Linked DNA regions of Homo sapiens: regions 2, 3 and 4 are each linked to region 1. The links come from fine-mapping of genetic effects on gene expression. A gene starts in region 1. Each other region holds a variant in brackets. All regions are shown on one strand. Distances are from middle to middle.

Region 1 (6,248 bases):
GAGGCTAATGAATTAATAAGCTCCCTGCTATGGTTTGGGTATGGCTTTGGACCTGCAAAGTGTCATGTTGAAATATGAGTCCCAGTGCTGGAGTTGGGGCCTGGTGGGAGGTGTTTGGGCCATATGGATGAATTCCTCACAAATGGCTTGGTGCTATTCTCCTGAGAGTGAGTTCTCATCCTTGAGAACAGGTTGTTCAAAAGAACCGAGAGTCAGCTTCTCCCTTTCTCTCCCCTGATGCCCCATCTTGCACTGTAGCCATGTGATCTCTGCACGAAGTCTCCCCTTTGCCTTCTGCATGAGTGGAAGCAGCATAAGGCCCTCATCTGAAGCTGACAGCCTGCAGAACCATGAGTCAAATAATCCTCTTTTCTTCATACATTATCCAGCCTCCCGTATTCCTTTATAGCAACACAAACAGATTAAGACCCTCACCCATGGACCATATGTCTGCATGTCCTCATATCAGTGTTCCCAAAAGTGTGATCAGCCACCACCAAAGTCATCTCAGGTTGGCCAAGCATGGTGGCTCATGCCTGTAATCCCAGCACTTTGGGAGGCAGAGGTGGCCTGGATCATTTGAGGTCAGGAGTTCGAGACCAGCCTGGCAAACAAAGTGAAACCCTATCTCTACTAAAAATACAAAAATTAGCCGGGTGTGGTGGTGCATGCCTGTAATCCCAGCTACTCGGGAGGCTGAGGCAGGAGAATTGCTTAAACAAGGGAGGTGGAGGTTGTAGTGAGCCACGATTGTGCCACTGCACTCCAGCCTGGGTGACAGAGTAAGACTCGGTCTCAAAAAAAAAAAAAAAAAAAATCACCTGAGATCCTTTACATATGCTGATTTTTGCAGTTGTTAAGAATAATGAATCAGATATATGGTTTCCATTAGGCCATGCTTCCCTTTTCACTCTATAGGCATGCTACACATAAAAAGTGATAATATTTATGTGGCATACTAGGGGAAGAAACCTTAAGACTGTCTCTCTGACAATGCACATCTTGCTGAGAAATTCTGCCATACGTATTGAGAAAAACAGCTGCAGAAAAATATACATATGATCTAACTTTTTCAAGACAATGCCAAAGCTCAGTATTAGAGTGTATGCATATCTGCATGAATATGTATTGTTTTTATACAATTACATGTTATTTTATGTAAGTGCAGATATACACTATTACAAGAATATTTAAAGAAATGTACTAGGTTGTTAATGTAGGGGAAGAGAAGAGGGAATACACGGAATAAAAATTTTTGTAAGTGAAAAATTCAATATGTATGTCATGACTCCATTTATACATTTATGTAAAATAATGTATAGAGATGTAAAAAATAAAAAATGCAGATCCAGAGCCCCTACCTCAGATCCTTTCAAGCGTAATCTTAGCAATAGGAGGTATGGTAAGGTGGGTGTCTGCATCTTCAACAGGTATTCCAAATGATTCTATAACAGTAAAGTCTGTAAACCTTTGCATTAGGTGCAAATATCATTAGCTGTAAACAGAACATAGTTGGAAATTTCCATCCTGCAATGCGGGCTCAGCTGACCCTCATTGTCTTGGAACATAGTAGATGCATAATAAATAGTGCAGATTATTTTGAGTCATTTGGAGGACAGGTGGAGGGAGTGAGGGCAAAAGTGGTGAGAGAAGCAGATGAGCTGGGCAAGGACATGCTTGCTCAGGAGAAGGGAGGCAAAGCGTATAAGAACATACTGAGCCTCCTTGCCACTTTCGACGTTCAACCAATATTTGTTAGGCACTAAATATACATGCAGGACACTTTTCTGTATGTTGTTTCATTTAATTCTTAAATAATCCTTTACAGACTCAGAGAGGTGAAGAGAGTAGCACAGGTAGTATCAGAATTGGGATTCAAACCTGACACATACACTGAGCACTAAGTTAAAACCGGGCACTGGGCAGCTGCTGAGGATGCGATGGTGAGTACAACAGACTGCTTGCTCTTTTTGATATCTAGAATCGTACAGCTCTGCTGTGCTCATCCTTGTCTGTTGTCATTTACTAGTTGACATCTTCGTTGACTACCTAGAAGCAGCTGCTTCGACATCTATCCCAACCTGAATCCCGTCAAAGGGAGATTACAACAAATGTGCTTTTTGTCTATCATCTCTAGCTAGTGTTTCACAGTGGGGGGAGTATCATTTCCTGGGTGACTTTGCATAGAGCAAGCTCCCCAAAGGCCAAGGAATACTCAATCTAGATTCTTCCAATCCTCCGGTACCCACCAAGTCAAAAGAATTCTGGCTCCCTGTAGCTTCATCTAAGTGCTTTTCTGTTAGAGGAGAAAAGTGAGGAAAGCGATGCTCTTTCAATAAGTTCGGCAGGGTGGGGCAAGGAATGGTACAAATTGATTTTTTTTTTTTCTTGAGACAGAGTCTCGCTCTGTCTCCCAGGCTGGAGTGCAGTGGCCCGGTCTCGGCTCACTGCGACCTCCACCTCCCGGATTCAAGCGATTCTCCTGCCTTAGCCTCCAGAGTAGCTGGGACTACAGGCGTACGCCACCACTCCCGGCTAATTTCTGTATTTTTAGTAGAGACGGGGGTTTCACCATATTGGCCAGGCTGGTTTCGAACTCATGACCTTGTGATTCGCCCGCCTCGGCCTCCCAAAGTGTTGGGATTACAGGCGTAAGCCACCGCGCCCGGCCGGTACAAATTAATTTAACACATCTTTTGATAATCTCATCCTTGGTGTTGGAAAAGACGGGAAAATCCAAAAGTGTCTATTTTGTGCCCAAATGCTCAAGTTAATACTCGAGGGCCTTGATCTCTGGCCTCTTGCCATCCCTCTCCCCATTATTTCTGAAGAAGTAGCCATTTTGCAGATTCCGGAGGATGGGAGCCACGGCCGGCCCCTGGTACTGAATCTCATCTCCTTCTCAAGGCTCCTTGGATCAAGTTGGGACCGGCAGCGCCAAGGCTGCTCTCCGTGATTTAGCAGCAACCTAGAGTCAGAGAGACCGGAAGATGGGAGGCCGGGATTCTCAGGTGGGGTCAGGGGTATGCAAAAATCCTTAGCAGCGGCCGCGCCCCCGCCCCGGGGAGGTAATTTGCGGAGGGCGGTGCAGTAGCCTCTCCAGTGCCCGCGTCCCACGGTCTAACGGCACTGCTCCCGGGGTGCGCGGCCCACGACTCAGGCTGCCTCCCCCAACCTGACAAGTGTGCGTCCTTACCACAAAATGCCACCACTTCCCTAAGTGACGCTGGGCCCCGAGGACCTGATTTGAAATCGGTGTTCAGAAGACCGAGCCCGGCTGGACGCAGCTGGCCTCCGGCTGAGAGCGGAGGGGAAGGGTTCCATACTCTCCGAGGATCCCGCGGGCTCGTGGCGTGTGGAACGCTTTTCATCGCTTTCAGTTCCCGTTTCCTTCGCCCCGACTGCCTACTCGGTCGCAGCTAAAGCCCGGAGCGTGGGATCCGGGCCCGGAGGAACGGGATGGCGAACGCGAGCTGCGCCGCGGCCAGGAGCCCGCCGCACCGGGCATGCTCAGTGGCGCGGCCGGCTGGGTGGCCCGCGAGCTGCACCCGGATCTGCTCGGCGGCGGCGACGTGAGCGCGCAGGGGGGCGGCGGCCTCGCCTCGTCTCTCTCTCTGCGCCTGGGTCGGGTGGGTGACGCCGAGAGCCAGAGAGATGTCGGATTTCGACAGTAACCCGTTTGCCGACCCGGATCTCAACAATCCCTTCAAGGTGAGCTTCGGCCCCAGCATCTCCTGCCGCCGCGACGCGTCGTTGTTTGTGAAAACGGACGAGTTCCTTCGCGCCCACTGCGTCTGCCCCTCGGCTCCCCTTAGCAGCCCAGAGAGGGGCGCGGGGCCGCCGTCCTCCATTTGGGGTCGCGCCCCGGCCCCGTGTCACTCCTTTGGGTTTTGGGGCTTGGGGGTGGAACCTCCTCAGCTCGTGCCCGGTCGCCCTTCCACACGTCCCCGACTGGTGAGGGTCGTGTCTGCAGCCGGGACTGGGCCCGCGCGCCCGGAGGGGTCCTGGCCCGCCTCTCAGGAGAGAAAGCCGAGGGCAGGTAGAGTCGCCCCTTGCCAAGCAAGTGTGGCTGGCAGGGCCGGGAGTCGGCGGAGGGGGGCCCGCCCTGGGGTGGGGTTGTCATGGGGACCCGAGGTGGCGGCGGCGGAGAGCTGCGTGGGGTGATGGCAGAGGTGTGGAGGAGGAGAGAGGTGAGGGCACCGAGTATGCTGCAATTAAAAAAAAAAAGGTTATGTTTTTATTTTTTAAACTTGTGTTGCACCCAAATACCACCAGTGGCGCTGCCATCCCCCCTCTTTCTGTTAGGTTGAGGTTGAGGTTATTGATACCAAAGCAAAACTTAAAAATAAACATATCTGGAAAACAATAGTGCACGTGGACGACCTCTTCCCTACCCAGCTGCTTCTAGCAAGGTAAACGATGGGATATTTTCCAAGCTCCTAGTGCGTCACCGGTTCTCTGGGCTATGTGAGGATACCATTTCCTACTTGAGCTGCTTTTCTTCTTGGAGTCGACCTTATCAACCCCGGCTTCGGAAGGGCTTGGCACAGAATCCTGCAAAGGAAGGCGGCTGAGATATTCATCGTCTGCGTTTAAATGAATGCAACATCTAAATAACTCTCTCTTTGAAAGTATTCTGAATTTCCTAATGAGTGTAACTGTTAGCACGTGTAATTTGTTTCCAACTGTTGGTTGAAGTTGTTTCTCAATCCCCCCGGCCATGTGCAGTAGTAACTTTAATTTGCAGTCACACAGAATAAAACAGGAACTCTAATTTGTGGTCACACAAGTGTCACTTCTGGCTTGTTGAGTTTACATCTTTTTACTCCTGGTTTTATCTTTCATTAAGAATCCTGGAAGAGGAAAACTATTTCTGCTCTGATTATTAAATGCCTGATAATTCCAAGGAGGATTATTTTAATGAAATGACCCTGATTATTATTGACAACTCGACTCACTTTGTAGCAGTGTAGAATTAGACTCAGTCACTGTTTCATTGTCCCTAATGTCACTTAAAATTCAGTACAACTGGCCTGTACCTTTCAGTGACATGGTTGCATTTTAAGACTTTTTTTTTTTTCCTGGCAGTTTTGTTTCAATTAGTATTGGACTTGCTTCCATGTTGTGGAAAATCAGGTAGTTCTTAAATGGTAGACTTTCTAAAGAGACCGTTCATAAATTGTTAAATGGGTGTTATTTTAAAATATTTTGAAGATAAAACATCAAGAACCTTTTAGCCTTTCCTAATTCAGATAATTCACTGACGCTGTTTATTCAGCATCTGACGATTTGGCAGTGTATTTTCTACTTGGTCATTCCATTTCATGGTTCATTTCATATTAACTGGCTCTCTTGTTAGGGCAAAACATTGTCTTCATCTTAGCCCAGACTGTCCTTTTGTGACATCTGATATTGCCATGACACTTTTCCTCTTCTGACATTCATAAAGTTGCTGTAGTAATTCTAAACCCAGGAGTTGTTTTAAATATTCATTGTGGCATAACGTTATAAATCTTTTTTGTTCTTTTATAAGTGGATGTATCCAGGACAATGATTATTCAAGTTTGTAAAATGCATCAGGGACAGATCATTTAGGTCTAAAGTAGACTTGGTTGTACACATATTTCTGCTTATGATCTTTCTCTGTTTTTGGTGACTGTTATAGCACTGTCAGTGTATCTGACCCTTTATTTTTCCATTTATGTTCACCTGCCCCTCCTCCTCACAAAGTATAGTTTTATATCTATATTTTGTCTTTTTACTTCTGCTTATATTTATGTAAAAGTGATTTTTGAAATAACATTTCTGATACTCTACTTAAATCTGAAATGTTTCTAGAATCATTTGAGTTACTTTATGATCATTTTTCTTTTTTTACTTTTTTTTTTTTTTTGAGACGGAGTCTTGCACTGTTGCCCCGGCTGGAGTGCAATGGCGTGATCTCAACTCACCACAACCTCTGCCTCCCGTGTTCAAGTGATTCTCCTGCCTCAACCTCCCTAGTAGCTGGTATTACAGGTGCCCGCCACCACACCCGGCTAATTCTTTGTATTTTTAGTAGAGACAGGGTTTCATTGTATTGGCCAGGCTGGTCTTGAACTCCTGACCTCGTGATCCACCTGCCTCAGTCTCCCAAAGTGCTGGGATTACGGGCGGGAGCCACTGCGTTCAAGCAGATCGTTTTTCTTTCTTTCTTTCTTTCTTTTTTTTTTTGAGACGGAGTCTCCCTCTGTCGCCCAGGTTGGAGT
Region 2 (6,248 bases), 25 kb before region 1:
TTGTGGTGAGTGGAGATCATGCCATTACACTCCAGCCTGGGTGACAGAGCAAGACTCCATCTAAAAAAAAAAGAAAAAAAAAAGCTAGAAATAAATGAATCTGCAAGGAAAAAATAATGGAAAAATGAGAAAAGAGAAAGATTTTTATTTATTTATTTATTTATTTTTTGAGATGGAGTCTTGCCCTGTCACCCAGGCTGGAGTGCAATGGCATGATCTCAGCTCACTGCAACCTCTGCCTCCTGGGTTCAAGTGATTCTCTTGCCTCAGCCTCCTGAGTAGCTGGGATTATAGGCGTGCACCACCATGCCCGGCTAATTTTTTTTTATCCTTAGCAGAGACGGGGTTTCACCACGTTGGCCAGGCTGGTCTCGAGCTCCTGACCTTGTGATCTGCCCGCCTTGGCCTCCCAAAGTGCTAGGATTACAGGCGTGAGCCGCCATGCCTGGCCTGAGAAAGATTTTTTAATGAGTAAAGAAAGAAAAGAGTAGAGGAGAATATAAAGAAAACTGAGGGTTTTTTTCTATTTATGTATTTATATTTCCTTTTGCATACATTTACATTATGTTTTGGAAATAATATATTGACAATACAGAATGTTAATTCATGGAAGACAGTAGATCCTGAACCATGTTTGATAAAGATCTCGAAGTGTCTACTGCTCATAAGAGTACTGTTCTTGAATAATAACACACCTATCTTGAGAACCTGAATTTAACCATGCAGCATGCTCTCAACCTCCTAATGTTACTTAATCTAGAAAGAAATCATTATGTCTATTTTATAGAATAGAGTCCTGAGGCTTGAAAATGGTTACTTGTACGTATTACACGTTAGATATTTGATTCTGTTAGTCACTTATTATTCATCCTTTCTTTGATTGCTGGTAATTTTCATGGGCGTTCTGAAATCCCCTAACTTGGCCCTAACTGGACCAAGTGTGCCCTCCTTGGAGTTTTTTTCTTAGACACAGGAATTATTGCTGCTATTTAAGTCTGCCTATGCTAATCTTTAGACAAATAATGATTTATCTTGGTCCATGGTACTTTTTATGCATGTCTGTAAAAAAGAGTTTTGGTTGAAACATCCTATGAAAAAACATGCTTTACTATTAATATCTTCATAAAGCTGCCATGGAATAAAAAAATATTAACATGGAAAGCATAATAGCGATGTTGTATATTTGTATTATTTTATTTTATAATTTTTATTGTTAGAAAGTTAGAAAATACAGAAAAGCACAAAGAAAAATAATAATTGCCATGTGCCTGTAGTCCCAGCTATTCAGGAAGAAGAGGCAGGAGGCTCACTTGAGCCAAGGAATTTCAGGCTGTAGTGTGCCATGGTAAAGCTTGTGATTAGCCACTGCACTCCAGTCTGGGCAACATAGTGAGACCCTGTCTCAAAAATCATCAATATCATCGTCATTATCATCCATATTCACACCATCTCAAACAAACCACTATTATATTGGCATATTTTTCACATTTTTAAAAGAAAAATTAGTTTATTGAATGACTTACAGGAATTCAAACAACAGAACTGCACAAAAATAAAAGTTTGAAAATCACCTCAAATCTACCACCCAGAAATGACCATGATTAGCTTTAGAATAATATACATTAGCTTTATACTGTGTATATATACACATTCTTCTAAGCATACATACAGATAGAAAGAATACCTTTATAAGCATGGGGTCATGCCATTTATATAAACATCTTAAAATTAAACTTACTTGAATTTAATAGAAGAGAAATTGAAGGAATGGCTGAATTTCAAATAAATATTCCTCTATCACCACAAGATACATTATTTCCTGAAGAATTCTAAATACTCCAAAATATGAAAAGACTGCATTGTTGCACTTTTTATAAAGCCACGTTTTGATTGTATGTATCATCAGTGACTCCTTACTTTGAAAGATAAAAGCATTAACATCCTCGCACTCCTACTCATCTCTCCATCCCCTTCCTCCCCTAGCTCAAAACATTTACCTGTTATTTTTATCTTCATAAATCTCATTATTTTCTGCAGGCACAGCTAACATATTGAAAAATCTTCTGCCTACTACCTCTGCATTCTCAATTATTTTTTATATGGATGTAGTTACTCCTGAAAAGTCCCTCTCCTCACTGTCAACTACTAACCTAAAACTGCCACCACAACCCAGTGTTGGCTGCTCAAGACTTTCTTCCCCCGCCCCTGTCTCTCTAATAAGGCCCATGAGAAAGGTAAATGGAAAAATACCTAGAGGATGAGCAACTCCATAATTTCACTTAGCTTGAAGGGAGAGGGAAAGAAGCTGTGAACACACAGGCATTAATAATTTTGACCCTGTTAAATTTTTATAACAGTACAATTTTCTGGAATACTAGATATGGACAATAGAACTCAAATGATGCAACTGGCTTCAGAGAACTTACTGAAGAAGTTGGGGCAGGAGGTCCAGGAAGAATAGGGTCAAAGGCAGGGAGTGATGAGAAGGGCATTCTGTCTCTAGTTCTGCAGTGCACAGCAGAGGGGCTGGGCCCAGGACTCCCACCACAGGGCCGTGCAGCCAGCCAACTCATCTCCCTGCTTCCTGCACGTTTAAAGAGAAAGCTCAGTACTCACT[G/A]CTAAGCATCTGGCTTGACAGCAGGGAACATTCAGTTAATGGTAGTTCAGAGGAATTGCTGTGTTTGCAGCTGTTTCTTCTTGATAAAATAATTGTTGTTTCAAATGGGAAATTATTATGTGGAATCAGAATCAAATGTAAAAGCACTGTCGTAGCACAGTTTGATTTACTGGTATATAAATAGGTTTTGGGAAAAGAAGGTATAACATGAAAAAGTATGATCATTGGCTGGGTGTGGTGACTTATGCCTGTAATCCCAGCACTGTGGGAGGCTGAGGTGGGTGGATCACTTGAGGTCAGGCGTTCAAGATCAGCCTGGCCAACATGGTAAAATCCCGTCTCTACTAAAAATACAAAAATTACCCAGGTGTGGTGGTGGGCGCCAGTGGCTCCAGCTACTTGGGAGGCCGAGGCAGGAGAATTGCTTGATCTGGGGAGGCGGAGGTTGTGGTGAGCTGGGATTGCATCACTGCACTCCAGCCTGGGTGACAGAGTGATACTCTGTCTCAAAAAAAAAAAAAAAAAGGGAAAAGAAAGGAAAAGAAAAAGTATGATCATTATACATGGTGGATTAGCACTTTCCCAAAGATCCAAAGATAACAATGCCAGAGAGATGTGACATAGGACTGAAGCAGCGTGGTCACACATCAAATCAACAACTTCACATATTTTCTAACCCTGTTTCATGGAAGGCACACACACTCTTGAGAATGGTATATGGCAACCTGCTTTGCCCAGACTAAAAGCTCAGTCACTACTAGTAGGTACAGAAAAACTGTTAAAAACAATTATGTGTATTATTTTTAAACATTTCAAAAGTCTTGTGCCAAATGTCAAGCTGTGATTTACCTATAGTAACTATTAGTCGAAGAAATTAATGAATAAATTATTTTTGAATTAGTAGATTTTTTTTCCCTTTAACTCCGTAGTGCCCTCATTCTAGAAAGACATAATGCAACTTTTTTCTTAAAAGATCAGATAGTAAATATTTTTGGCTTGCAGGCTGTATGGTCTCTACTGAGACTACTCAGCTCTGGTGTTGTAGTGTGAAAGCAGACATAGACGATATGTGTACCAATGTGGATAGCTGTGTTCCAATAAAGCTGTATTTATAAAACAAGAGGCTGGGCTGGGCAGTCGGTTGCTGACTCTGGTTGGCTACACTCCCTGTTAGACATCTGGAGATCAGAGATTGTTGCTATGGCCTGTGAAAGCAATTCCTAGTCCTTAACAGGTTGTAAACTGGTGTTTATAATAATAATGTGTTCCCCTGGTAATAAAAACTTAAATTGACATCCCTGTTTTCTAGAAGACATAAATACTTATAAATTATCTTTGTTGAACAGAACAAGATTATTGGCCTTCTGTCTTTCCCTTGTGCCTGAAGGTAAAAGACAACGATTGTGTTACAGGTTTAGTTCTCTAGAAGCAAAGAGCAAGGCAGAGCTTTGGAAGCTAGATGTTTTATTAGGAATCAACACTTACGAAAAGTAAGGGAAGGGACCAGGTGTGGTGGCTCACACCTGTAATCCTAGCACTTTGGGAAGCCAAGGTGGGCTGATTGCCTGAGTCCAGGAGTTCGAGACCAGCCTGGGCAACATGATGAAACCCTGTCTCTACAAAAAAAAACAACAACAAAAATTAGCCATGTGTGGTAGTGGGCACCTGTAGTCCCAGCTATTTGACAGCCTGAGGTAGGAGGATCACTTGAACCTGGGAGGCAGAGGTTGCAGTGAACTGAGATTGTGCCACTGCACTTCATCTTGGGTGACAGAGCAAGACGGTGTCAAAAAAAAAAAAAAGAAGAGAAAGAAAGAAAGAAGGAAAGAAGACAGAGAGAGAGAAAGAAAGAAAGAAAAAGAGAAAGAAAGAAAGGAAAGAAAGAAAGAGAAAGAAAGAAGAAAGAAAGGAAGAAAGAAAGAAAAAGAAAGAAGAGAAAGGGAAGGGAAGGATGTGGGACTGGGTGAAAGGAGAAGTAGAGCTGCTATGCAGATTCGAAAAGCCTCATCTGATCTGGCACAGAATGTTGAGAGAATAGTATCAAGTGGCCAAGGCTTTATTACACCCTCACATAGTCATCAGATGCACACAGCCGTAGGAAGAGGAAGGTTTTGGGCAAAGCAGTTCTCTGGAAAAAGCTCATCACTAAAGACATCTGCTGACTGCCTGCCCATTGCCGGGCATCAAGTCCTTGAAGAGGCATCTGTGCAGGGAATCTTCGTATCTACCACAGAGAGCTAAATGTCTTAAGAAAACAAAAAGTCTGAAAGTGTGTCTTACATAAGTTAATACCAGTGATGGAGTAACTTGGAGAAAAACAGCCATATAGCCATTGAGCAGGTTAATTTCATCCTTTTCATTCTGTTTTCCCTTTTTGTATATAGAAATATTCCTCTTTTTTTGAGATGGAGTCTCACTCTGTCACCAGGCTGGAGTGCAGTGGCACGATCTTGGCTCACTGCAAGCTCCACCTCCCAGGTTCAAGCGATTCTCCTGCCTCAGTCTCTGACTAGCTGGGACTACAGGCATGCACCATCACGCCTAGGTAATTTTTGTATTTTTAGTAGAGACAGAGTTTCACCATGTTGGCCAGGATGGTTTCAATCTCTTGACCTCATGATTCACCCACCTCAGCCTCCCAAAGTGCTGGGATTACAGGCATGAGCCACCACGCCTGGCCCTCATTTTTAAAGAATAGTTTTGCTGGACATAGAATTCTTAGTCAACAGTCTTTTTTTTTTTTTTTTTTTGAAATGGAGTCTTGCACTATCATGCAGGTTGGAGTGCAGTGGTGCTGGAGTGCAATGGTGCGATCTTGGCTCACTGCAACCTCTACCTCCCAGGTTCAAGTGATTCTTGTGCCTCAGCCTCTCGGGTAGCTGGGATTACAGGTACCCGCAACCATGCCCAGCTAATTAGAGATGGGGTTTCACCATGTTGGCCAGGCTGGCCTTGAACTCCTGACCTCTAGTGATCCACCCACCCTTGGCCTCCCTAAGTGCTGGGATTACAGGCGTGAGCCACTGGAATTCTTGTTTGACAGTCTGTCTTTCAGCATCTTGAATCTGTCATCCCACTGCCTTCTGGCATCCATAGTTTCTGATGAGAAGTAAACTGTACATTATATTGAGTATTCCTTGTACTTGATGAGTCACTTTTTCCCTTGCTGCTTTCTAGTTTCTCTCTTTGTCTTTTGACAATTTGCCTATGATGTGTCTAGGTTTAGATCTCTTTGAGCTTATTCTACTTGGATTTTATTGCACTTCTTGGGTGTGTAGATTAACGTTTTTCAACAAATTTGGTTAGGTTTTTGTTATTTTTTGTATTTCTTTTTTTCTATCTTTTAAAGACTCTCATTAAGTGTAAGTTGGTATGTTTGATGGTGTCCATAGGTATCTCAGGATCTATTCATTTTACTTCCTTCTCTCTCTCTCTTTTTCATTCCTTAGACTGGGTAATCTCAATCGATTCATTTCTTCAATTCACTGATTAATTCTTCATTCCTCTACCAATTCAAATCTGTGTTGAGCCCATTGAGCATGAGTAATACATGGTATGTTATTTAAAAATCATATATGTACCATGTAAACAGTGAATAATTATCTTTTTCACACTGACACGAAGGTTTCCA
Region 3 (6,248 bases), 110 kb after region 1:
CCATATTTTCTCTATTTGAAATTTTTAACTTCTCTTCTGCACCAAACACACATACCATTGACACTCAGCTCTCTAATGTTACTAAATCCCTTTTCCAGTTTTCCTCCTCCTTAACCTCTGTAGCTTTCTACACCACAGATGGCTCCTCTGCTAAGACTTTGCAATGATGTTCTAATTCTCTTGACTCTCTGGCTATTCTTTCTCCTCCATTTCTTCATCCAGTTCATAAATTAAGGTCTTAAATGTAATCGGCTCTTTGTGCTATGCAGTCATTTTCTTTGGGAATTTCATCTTCCCTTATTATTTCAGTTTCTTCTCTACCTAGATGACCTAGAATCTTGGAATTGGAAAAGATAATGCATTGCATAAACCTTTAGTTGCATCTTCAATTGGTCATTTTCATCTCCAGTTGTTGATTGATGTCATCTTCTCACAGTAATGCCTCATAAACTCTTCAGTTTCTTAGTGATAGATGTTCCTTTTGAACGTTCTGAGTAATATTCAAGAAGCATTTATTAAGACCACATATTGTATAGATTCCATTATTGTGAAATGTATAAAATGGGCAAATATATAGAGACAGAAAATGTATTACAGCTTGCCTGTGGCTTATGGGTGGGGTGGGGAGTGAGGGTAATGAAAGTATTCTAAAATTAGGTTGTGTAGATATTATAGTCACAACTCTATGAATATACTAAAAATCATTGAATTGTACACTTTAAAGGGTAAAATGCATAGTATACAGATTTTATCTTAATGAAGCTTTTTTTTTTGAAGAAACACTTATTGAATACCTACTAATGAGATGGCACTAAGCACTTTATGTAATTCCATTGAACATTTTTGTCAGTGCTGTGATTGCTTCTGTCAGTGCTTCCATTACTTCTTTTTTGAGACAGAATCTGTCTGTCGCCAGGCTGGAGTGCAGTGGCGCGATCTTGGCTCACTGCAGCCTCCGCCTCCCGGGTTCAAGCGATTCTCCTGACTCAGCCTCCCAAGTAGCTGGGACTACAGGCATGCGCCACCACACTCAGCTATTTTTTTTTTTCTTTTTTTGAGATAGAGTCTTGCTCTGTCACCAGGCTGGAGTGTGATGGCGTGATCTCTGCTCACTGCAGCCTCCAACTCCCTGGTTCAAGCAGTTCTCCTGCCTCAGCCTCCTGAGTAGCTGGGATTACAGGCATGTGCCACCATGCCTGGCTAATTTTTGTATTTTTAGTAGAGACAGGGTTTCACCATGTTGGCCAGGATGCTCTTGATCTCCTGACCTCGTGTTCTGCCTACTGGGATTACAGGCATGAGCCACCACGCACAGCCACTTCCATTACTTTTTAATTCACTTTCTTAGATACCTTTTTAGTATCTTTTCCATTTCCAACCTCAGCTAATCCAGAAATTCTTTTTACAGGTTACTTATATTCCCTCATCCTTCTCGCAGTCCATTTAATATATAATTCCTATATTAACCTTAAAAAAACCCCAACAAATTGGCACTCTGCAGATTTTTGACGTGGATCTGGGATTGGGAACGGCATTTTGGTGGCAGTGCGAAGAAGGGCTACATTCAGAAACACCAGCATTGCTAAGGTTGTAAAAACACACTACATGCCATAAAGCCATCAAATGGGCCTTAATAACCTAATGATGAAATCACTTTTATTTTGCTCAGCCATACTCTGGGCCCTATGCAGAACACTTCACCAGTATTATGCCATTTTGTCCTCTCGGAGAATCACAGATTGGGATTATAGTGGTGGTGGGAAGAAGGGCTAATGGTGACGTCTCACAGCTCCATGATTCACACTTTCTATTCTTGTCAGACTGTACTGCTCGGTTTCTTCAAATACATCATGTACATTCCTTTGTTCCAGATTTTGTTTATATGATGTTTTTTAATCCGTGCATTAATTCGTCTTCTCTGCTATTTGAAGACCTACTAGTATTCTTTCAAGACCCAGCTCCGATCTTGCTGTGTCTCCCAGAATGTTTTTTGTTGCCTTGTATCTTAGGGACCATGTCATTCTCTGTTTTCTTGGGGAAACTTAACTGTCTATATTGCTTACTGTGGCACCTGGGCATAAGCCAGTTTTTATGCCTTATGGTGCATGTATTCTGGGTACGCAGCTGTTAAGCACCCCCCGCGTGAACAAGTCTTTTAGCATTGGAATTAGATGAGAAGAGCAAGAGTTTTGCTTTGGAACCATACAACTCAGGTTGAAATTTTGACAGCTTCACTTACAGCTCTGTGACCTGAGACAGACTTCTGTAACCACTCAGGTTTGGTGTCCTCAACTGTACTCCAAGCTGCGTGAGAGTGGAGACCTGTTCTGTATGCTTTCAGGTTGTAATTCTCACATCTGGAACAGTGACATGCAGTGATTGGCATGTGATAGGCACTCAGATATTTGTTGAATAAAAGAAGGAATGGGAAGAGTAACCACTTTCATAGGGTTGGTGTGAGGATTAAATGAAACAGTGAATGTAAACTGCATAGAATAGGGCCTTCTCAGTTAATAGTTTTCCTTTCTGATCTTGACCTTTTTATCATTTTATATTCAGGGTCTGGTTTAGTGTCTACTTTTGTTTAGTAGATGCCTTTATCAGTCAGCATGCTATCAGAAACAGAAAGAATGAAAAGGTTAATTGCGGGGAATTGGCTGGTGAGGTCAGTCTGATATCAAGAGGGCAGGCCGGAACTCTCAGGCAGAAGTTGAAACTCTGGTCCACAAGTGGGATTTCTTCTTCCTCAGAGGAACTCCAGTTGTGTTCTTAAGGCCTTTCAACAGATTGGATGGGGCATACCCAGATAATCTAGAACACTCTTCTTAAAGTCAACTGAAGGCAGATGCCGATTACATCTACAA[G/A]ATACCTTCACAGCGGCACCTAGGTTAGTGTTTGATTGAATAATTGGAGACTGCGGCCTAGCCAAATTAACATGTAACACTGACCATCACAGCACCATTCTTTGGAGAATTCCTTTATTATTTCACATGTATTATTGAGGGTGTTTTATAGAAGTAGAAATGTAATACATTTTGAGTATAGTAGAGGGTTTTGTGGTGTGTGGCAGTTTTCACTCATTTGTTAAACAGCTGTTATTGAGCATATATTACGTGCCAGGCACTGGGCTGTGCATGAGCTCAGAGAGATCACCTGTTGGTGAGGAAGAGAAATAAATTGGTGGGCCCCCCAATTCAGTTATTTAATGGCCATGATAGAGGTAAGTATAGGGAGCAGAGGGACACCTATCAGGTTTTGGAGGTCTTTTTAAGTATTGCCTCAGCTGAGATATAATGATGGCTGCTCATCATTATAGTTATCTAAGCAAAAGAATAAGGGACAGGGAAGAGGATAAGAGGGATAAGGAGGTACCAGAGAGTGGGGATACCACGTTCACATCTAGTTGTAGGAAATAACATGGCAAATTCAGGGAATTAAATGTAGCTCAGAATGGATGGGAGATAAAACATGGTGTGTGAGCTGGGGCTAGGAGAATTGTAGGTTGTTGGTATTGGAAGATGAAATTGAACACGTAAGTATAGTTTTATCCTACAGGGTCTTGTTAAGAAGTTTAAATCTTCTCCAAAAAGTGGTAGTGAGCCATAGAAGAGTTTTAAGGAGGAGAGTAATTGAATTGATTAGATTTGAATTTTAGAAGCATTTATTCTGAAATACATTTGGGATTTGCGGGGCCGAGCAGTCGTACTTGGAAACACTTAGGAGACGGGCTAGGAAGCTGATTAGTAATGATGGTGGCCTGAACTGAGGAAATGTGAAGAAAATGTAGTCAAGAGAAAACGAGCAGGTAAGGATTAATCCAACTGGGCCTGGAAGTAGGGGACAAGATAAGACTCAAGGATGACACCCAGGTTTTTAGATGATGGACCATTCAAGAAGAGAGTACAAGAAAAATGGTTTGGGGATCAAGATGTTTTCCACGTTGACCTTGAATTTGGGGAGTTTAAATTAACTGGTGGGGCATTAAAATATAAATATTGAGTAGGCTTTTGTATATATGAGTTAGGAGCAAGGGAAGAACTTTAGGCTGGATTTCTAGACTGGAAAGTATTGACTTGTTGAAGTAAATGAAGCCTAGAAAGTGTATGGAGTCAGAAGAGGGCTTTGGGGAGAATACTCACAACAATTAAGACTCTGCTGTGGGTGAAGTATAAAGGGAACTTTAACCATCACTGGCAGTGGTTGAGGAATGTGTGGCACAGATGATCAATAGAGCCAGGGTGTGGAGGAAGTGTTTATTCTGTAGCTGTTCTATAATGAACTACTCTGTGCACACTCTGAATACTTTGACCAGCAGTTTTTTTCCTTTCCATTTTCCAGGTATACAGTTTTTCAGGATCCACCACACAAAGGAAAAGTTATAGAATGGTGCTCATATGCCAGGCATTGAAAAGAAATATGACTTTCTCGAATAAAAGTATTGATATGGATATCATGCAGCATACTCTAATATTTTGTTGTTGTTGTTGTTTTTACCTCATAGTTAAAGAAGTTACCAGAACTTCTGTTTATATGTGTTCACAAGTTCCTAAACTTCTCTGGGTCTCAGATTCTTTATCTGTGAAATAAGGAGTTTAGATGAGATGATTTTCTGTATGATTTTATGAAGTACGATAGGGATACTATAAGCTAAAATATAATTTGCACCAGCTTTCATATTTTAATAGCAGGCATTTCTCTTGCTGTAATAGAAATTAAGATCCAATTTTAAAAACCTAATTTTTCCTTTTTAATTTTCTGTTTCACACTTGGTCAAAACTGGCAGTTTAATGACAAAAAATCCTTTGCAGGTATGTAGCAGTATTTATAACCACTAGGGGTCATGCTTTTCAAGAACAGTTAATGCCCTCTAACCGTAATCTGTGCACGGTTTTGACTCTAGAATTGTTGGGTTTTATTAAGCTGTTCTTCTCTTAAGGTAAATGTGCTCTGTCCTATATATTTATCCTAATTGAAGTGAATAGGATTTTGGTAATTTCGTTGGCTTTCTGTTGTCTTGCATAACTGAAGTGGGTCATCATTGGTGCTGCAGGGCCCAGTATGAGATTGTGCTGTTTGTTTCCCCCACAGTGTTGTTTTATACTCCACATTTCAAATATTGAAAGAATATATGTCTCCTATACATCTGCATGGAGAAGGGTCTAGTTTAGTCCTTATCTTTCACAAATAGATTTCTTGTTTTCTTTCAGATTATTTCCAAATGGTGTTTTTACAAAAGCTCCTCTTTCTATTAGAACTATCAGAAAGAATTGAGTAATGGTTTTGGGCCAAGCAGGGAGTTGTTATAAATGTGTCAAATAACAGTAAATGAATGCATCACAGGAGACTATGGATCAGGGAATCCAAAACTTTTCCCTTCTGTTAATTGGTATGGCTAGAATAACTTAATATGGAAGTAATTAATAGATGATATATCATTTGTATTCCTTTTGGGACCTGATTTTGAATGATTATCACTTCCATGAAATTTGTTCATAGACTGTCATGTTCACATTAAGTAGTTTTTAATAGTGAATTTTTTGCATTTTGAAAGAATTTTAGAAAAAAGTTATTTTACCTCTTTAAAAAACAAGTTTTCTGAAGTGTTTCAAATCTTGTTTATTTACTACAGTATATATTCTGCAGATACTCATTTTTGTGGGAGCGCTGAATTGGGTCTATGATAGAGAACACTGTGATTAAGTCTCATTAGTTGGTGTTTTATGGTAAATGCTTTGTGAAGATATCCTATTATATATAAAGTGATAGTTTTCTTAGGTGAAAAGTGACTCTTACAGTTATCCCTCTATATGCAGGGGATTGGTTTCAGAACCCACACATCCATATACCAAATCTATGCATACTCAAGTCTTGGAGTCAGCCCTGCAGAACCCATGTATACAAAAAGCCTTCTGTGTACTTGGGTTTTACATCCCATGAATACTGTATTTTCTATGTGAGTTTGGTTGGAAAAAAATCACATATTATAAGTGGACCTGCCCAGTTCAAGGATTATCATCTATACTTTCTTGAAAATATTGTTATCATTCACCTCTCCCCCTTGTCTCTTCCACTTTGTAACTTTATTTATGACCTAGGATAGAAAGCTGATAATTCCACTGTACTATTTTTCTATAGTCACAAATAGGCATGCTACTTCTCTCTCAGAACCATTCAGCACTGTCGTCTTTGCTGACTAGGAATCAATTCTGGATGGTTCACATTGTCTATTAAAATAGTCATCCAGTTAC
Region 4 (5,476 bases), 110 kb after region 1:
TATCAGCTTTATTGAAATATAATTCACATACAATTCACCCATTTAAAATATACGGTTTAGACTGTGCATGGTGGTTCACACCTGTAATTCTAGCACTTTGGGAGGGTTTGGGGGGCCGAGGCAAGAAGATGACTTGAGGCGAGGAGTTTGAGATCAGCCTGGGCAACATAATGAGACTACCCTCCAACCCCTTACAAGACATTAAAAAAAAAAAAAAAAAAAAAACAAAAAAAAAAAAAAAAAAACAACAACACAGCCCAGGCATGGTGGTGTGAGTTTATTGTCCTAGCTGTTGGAGAGACTGAGGTGGGAGGATCACTTGAACCCAGGAGTTTGAGGCTGCAGTGAGCTATGATTGCATACCACTACACTCCAGCCTGGGCTACTGAGTGAGACCTTGTCTCTAAAAAATACAAAATAATTTAAAAAAACCTAAAGTATACAATTTAATGGCTTTTGGTGTATTGTATTTGTTTTAATTGTGGCAAAATATGTATAACATAAACTTTGACATTTTAATTACATTTAGGTATACAATTCAGTGGCATCAATTACATTCACAGTGTTGTACAACCATTACTAATGTCTATTTCCAGAACTTTGCATCACCCCAAACAGAAACTCTAATCATTAAGCAATAATTTTATTCCTCCCTATTCTCAGCCTCTGGCAGCCTCTAATTTGCTATGAATTGCCTATTTTAGATATTTCATATAAATGGAGTTATACAATATTTTCCTTTTGTACTTGGCTTCTTTCATTACCATAATGTTTTCAAGGTTCATCCGTGTTGCAGCATGTATCAGAAATGCATTCATTTTTAAGACTGAATAATATTCCATTGTATCTGTATACTACATTGTTTATCTGTTGATGGGCATTTGAGATTTTCCCACCTTTTGGCTATTGTGAATAGTGCTGCCGTGAACATTGGTGTACAGTTATCTGTTTGAGTCTTTGCTTTTACCTCTCTTGTGTACATATATACCCAATGTGGAATTCCTATGTAGTCTTATAGTAATTCTATGTTTAGGTTTTTGAGGCACCTCCAAACTCTTTTCTGGAAGGACTGTATCATTTTACATTCCCACCAGCACTTTCTCTACATCCTTGCCAACACTTGTGATTTTCCGTTTTTCTCATTCCAGCCATCCTAGCAGGTGTGAAGTAGTTGTATACTTTAAAAACATTTAACCTCTGAGGTGACTGCAAACTAAGCATTTTACTTTGTAACACAGGTATAGTCTCCTTAAGCCATATTGCACTTATTTGGTACCTTCTAAAAATTATTATTAATGAGGACAATTTTGGAACATTTAATCCTCAGCAGGTAGTAATAATAATTATTCAGTGGCTTCTACTGCAGATTACTAAGCTGTGTCTTTTAGGGGGTGTAACAATGAGTAGAATTAGTTCTTGCCCTTAGGCAAGTAAAAGCATGTAGGATATAATACAAAATGGACAGAAACCCTGTAAAAGAAAAAGTACATACATGCTCCCCAAAATGTACAAAGGATTGGCGGTACTCTCAATAGGGAAAGCCATAGCTAGTTCAGGCACAAAATGGCAGACAGAGCATTATTTGAGATAGTGCTTAAAGGGTGCGTGAGATTTCGACATGGTGAAACTAGACTGGCAATTCAAGGGGTTACAAAAGGGATATCTGACCCATCTGTGGGCAGGAGGGTTCATAGAGGGTTTCCAGAAATTTCAAACTGAAAATATTAGGCTTAGACGTCCATACTTTTTTAAAAACTCAAAACAAGAATTTAAAAAATATATTTAAAAAACTCATTTGTTTTTATTTTCCCAGCTTTTATAAAAGTTGAAATAATTTTGGCATGACAGGGATCTTAATAAAAGCACAGTTTCTTGAAATGGTATTCTATATGTTTTAATGAAGACATATGTTTGGGTTATTTAAATAAAGTGCCATTATTCTTTACTTCCCACACGATACAGTTTTTCTGTGTCATATACCACCACAGCATGTATTGTCTCTGAAGCTGCATTAAGGAGGCAGGACTCCTTTATGGAGCCGCATCTACATTTTGGCTGTGACACTTCGGCAGATACTTAAAAATTAATTTAACTTATGTTAGTGTAACTCATTTATATACATTCTGATTTGATCTTTAGGAAAACTCAGAGGAGCAGATAGTGTAACAAATATTCTTTTTTTATGGGAAGCAGACTTGAAGTTTTGAGTGGTGGCCAGCCAGCTAGAAAGTAGTGGAATTAGTATATACCAAATTTAATGCCTTTTCTGTGATTTTCCTAGAACTAAATATTATTTTAGGAGTAATGCAGTTCTCATAAGTAGAAAAGATAGTATTTAAGTTGTTTAATTTTTTTTTTGAATTCTCTAGGCTATTCTGCATTTATGGAATTTTCCACTAGGTAATATGCATTCAGGTCACATACACAGTGAGATTTTCTAAAGTGACAGTACAGATAAAAAGGCTGTGCAACTTGGTGATAATTGTGCTCCATTTAAGCAACCATCAACTGGTGCATTTTTTTAAAGATAAATTAGATTTTATCAAAATTGAAATATTTTTTCTTTTTGATACTTTATGTTCTGGGATACATGTGCAGAACATGCAGGTTTGTTATGGGTATACATGTGCCATGGTGGTTTGCTGCACCCATCAACCCATTATCTACATTAGGTATTTCTCCTAACGCTATGCCTCCCCTTGCCCCCCACCCCCAAGTTGTGTAATTTTTTAAAAAAAATTATAGTACTTGGTGTCAAAACCTTGTCCCTGATATCAGCAGTATGAATTATTAATAGATACCATCTGAAACCCTGGAGGGAAGTAATAAGCTTTTAAAGATGTTCATCCTGATGATTAGCCTGTCATCTTTCATGGGGCCCTGAAATCAAGAATCCACCCTTTTTCACATGGATATAATGGATTTAATACAGTATTTAGCATTATGCACTGTATATATATGTGGTCTTTTCCCTCTAGGTGGCTCTCTGGGTCTATATAGATACAAACTATTGAGAAATGTGGCTATTCCTACCTTTATTTTGCTTCTGTGTTCTGTGGGACTGTGAATTACATTTTAGTAAACTGTGAAGCCCATGAACACATAGTATCAGCTGCTCAATTTAGTGCAAGTTTGAAAAAGGAAATAATAAAGCAAATAAGAATTAACATTTATTTATTACATGCTCACAAACTTGGGGGAAGAGGGGAAGAGACAGACAAGTGAATCCAATTGCATTGCTCTGGTTTGGTCTAGTAAGTAAAGAAGGTTGATAAGATTTCTATAATACACTTCATTTTCTAGGATCCAGTCATTTGTACTCACTTTGAGATAAGTGTCTGGAACATAGGAGTAGTGATTTATCTATATCTTTAATTTTCCATAGAAAACTTGGTTTTAAAAGGGAATAAAAATAATTACTTTTATACTTAATGATAGTGCTAAGGTACTAGGGGAAAGGAATCTTTGGATTTACCAGTATATGTATTTGT[C/G]AGTGCTCTTTTTCTTCCTGACCATTTGACACTTTGATCTGTAGTAATATGGCGTTTGCTTTTACCACTGTATCAGAAGCACTCAGGGCTGTGTGGGTTATTTTTGTCTTGTACCGTGATAGATTTTCATGCATTAACTTGCTTTCTTGATAGTTTTTCTGACAGCTTTTCATGTGTTAACATGCTTTCTTCTCTTGGCATCAGTGAGAAGTATCTGTATCTGGTTCTTCCCTTTCCTCTCCCAGTCATTCTTTCTTCTTGTGGATGCCTCTTAAATAGTGTCTTTTTAAAACAATTTCAAGTTTTATTTTAGATTCAGGGGATACATGTGCAGGTTTGTTACAAGGGTATATTATGTGATACTGAGGTTTGGGGGACAGTTGAGCCTGTCATCCAGGTAGTGAGCATAGTACCCAATTGGTAGTTTTTCAACTCTTCTCCCCCTCCCACCTTCCCCTATCTTTTAAGTCCCCAATATCTATCGTTGCCATCTTTATGTCCATGTATACCCAATGTTTAGCTCCCACTTAAAAGTGAGAACATGTGATATTTGGTTTTCTGTTTCTGCATTAATTAGGTTATATACTTGATTTTATTCTCTTTCTACTCTGGGTTCTCCATAGACAGTTTCATAAATGCCAAGGTTTCAGCTATCATTTATATGTTGTTTTAGTCCCTTTGGGCTGCTATAACAAAAATACCATAGATTGGGTAGCTTAAACAACAGATAATGATTTCTCATAGTTCTAGAGGCTGAGAAGTCCAAGATAAGAAAGACACTGACAAATTCAGTATCTCAGGGGGGCCAACTTCCTGGTTCATAGACAGTTTCTGTGTCCTTTTGTGATGGAAGGTTGTCAGAGAGATCTCTGGAGTCTCTTTAAAAAAAAAAAAAAGTTCTTTTTGGAGACGTATATTGCCCAGGTTGGAGTGGAAGGCTGGGACCATAGGTGTGTGCCACCACACTGGGCCTTGGGGGTCTCTTTTATAAGGGCATTTATTCCATTAATGCAAGCTTCACCTTCATGGCAAAATCACCCCCGAAAAGGCCTGCCTGCTAATACCATCATATTGGTGGTTGGGATTTTAACATAAGAATTTTGGGGGGAACACAAACATTCAGTCCATAACATATGCCGTTGGTTTCCAAGTCCATGTCTTTAGCCCATTCCTCTCCCAAGCTTTGAACCAAACCTTTACCTGCCTGCTGTGGCAGGCCTAGAGTAGGTTGTCAGTAGAGTTGGAATGAATGAACAAATGTTTAGAACTTATCATCTGCCTTCTCCCCAAACCAGCCTATCCTCTCTTTTCTCTGTCTTCTTGAAACTACTTTCCCAAATGCAAGCTTGCTTTGAGAATCTTTGACTCATTCTTTTTCTTACCTCACAGTTACCAGTTCCTATCCAGGTTTGGAAAAAATACTGACTTGGATGCATTGGCCCTTCCCTAAGCCTGCTTTGATTGCATTCCAGTCAAGCTTCTAATTTAGATCCAGTCACAGTGCAGTGTAATTACCAGTATCTTTCTGTCCCCACTCTGCGAAGTTTGTGGGCATATAATTAATAAATGTTTGTTATTTCCTTCTTCAAATTTGTGTTAAAATAAGTGGCTGATGTTATGTATTGATGGACTCATAGTTTAATTATGCAGGTTTTAAGACATATACTGATAGAAAATTTTTGAACCCTACTCCTGAAAATAAATTCCAAGATTTGAGTGATTAATCAGTATGGAGAAACAATTCCCAGAAGTGTTTCTTTGTGCATTCTTTAGGACTTGACCATACACAAAAAGTTAAATTGTATACAGAGTGCATAGCGGCAATATGTTGAAGGACATAAGTAGTGCTTGGTACATTAAATGATAAAATGATCTCATTTGATTATAACAGGGCCTGTGGTGTATATGTAGATAAAATGGAAATAGATAAGGTACTGTTCTCTCTGAATAGTCTGGGGTAATAAATTAATGTATTGTTTCTTGTT

Direction of the effects. Alleles are on the strand shown, and positions count from the first base shown. SD is a standard deviation of normalised expression in the study named. Not every link is listed here.
With allele G in place of A in region 2, the expression in esophagus muscle of the gene that starts at base 3,600 in region 1 is higher (small effect, 0.17 SD a copy in GTEx).
As copies of C replace G in region 4, the expression in monocytes after Pam3CSK4 of the gene that starts at base 3,600 in region 1 goes up (large effect, 0.92 SD a copy in Quach 2016).

The links. PIP is the estimated chance that this variant, and not a neighbour inherited with it, causes the effect.
Region 2: its variant is the best candidate, but not a certain one, in a credible set for the expression of SCAMP1 in esophagus muscle (GTEx, PIP 0.58).
Region 3: its variant is the best candidate, but not a certain one, in a credible set for the expression of SCAMP1 in whole blood (INTERVAL, PIP 0.88).
Region 4: its variant is the best candidate, but not a certain one, in a credible set for the expression of SCAMP1 in monocytes after Pam3CSK4 (Quach 2016, PIP 0.58).

What each region holds. Positions count from the first base shown.
Region 1 is chr5:78,357,018-78,363,265 of GRCh38, forward strand. SCAMP1 (secretory carrier membrane protein 1) reads left to right here and starts at 3,600. Exons shown (of 9, transcript NM_004866.6): 1 at 3,600-3,711. The coding sequence starts at 3,655. It overlaps SCAMP1-AS1 (SCAMP1 antisense RNA 1), which reads right to left and starts at 3,524. Exons shown (of 2, transcript NR_105014.1): 1 at 3,197-3,524; 2 at 1,747-2,968. RefSeq lists enhancers at 2,652-3,248, 3,050-3,139, 3,170-3,329, 3,249-3,845, 4,240-4,359 and silencers at 3,510-3,599, 4,030-4,149.
Region 2 is chr5:78,332,413-78,338,660 of GRCh38, forward strand. No RefSeq gene overlaps it. Among named protein-coding and RNA genes, the nearest start is that of SCAMP1-AS1, 25 kb to the right of the region's middle. The variant G/A (reference allele first, on the strand shown) is at 2,618.
Region 3 is chr5:78,463,107-78,469,354 of GRCh38, forward strand. All of the region lies in intron 8 of SCAMP1 (secretory carrier membrane protein 1), which reads left to right. Among named protein-coding and RNA genes, the nearest start is that of SCAMP1, 110 kb to the left of the region's middle. The variant G/A (reference allele first, on the strand shown) is at 2,865.
Region 4 is chr5:78,469,688-78,475,163 of GRCh38, forward strand. All of the region lies in intron 8 of SCAMP1 (secretory carrier membrane protein 1), which reads left to right. Among named protein-coding and RNA genes, the nearest start is that of SCAMP1, 110 kb to the left of the region's middle. The variant C/G (reference allele first, on the strand shown) is at 3,492.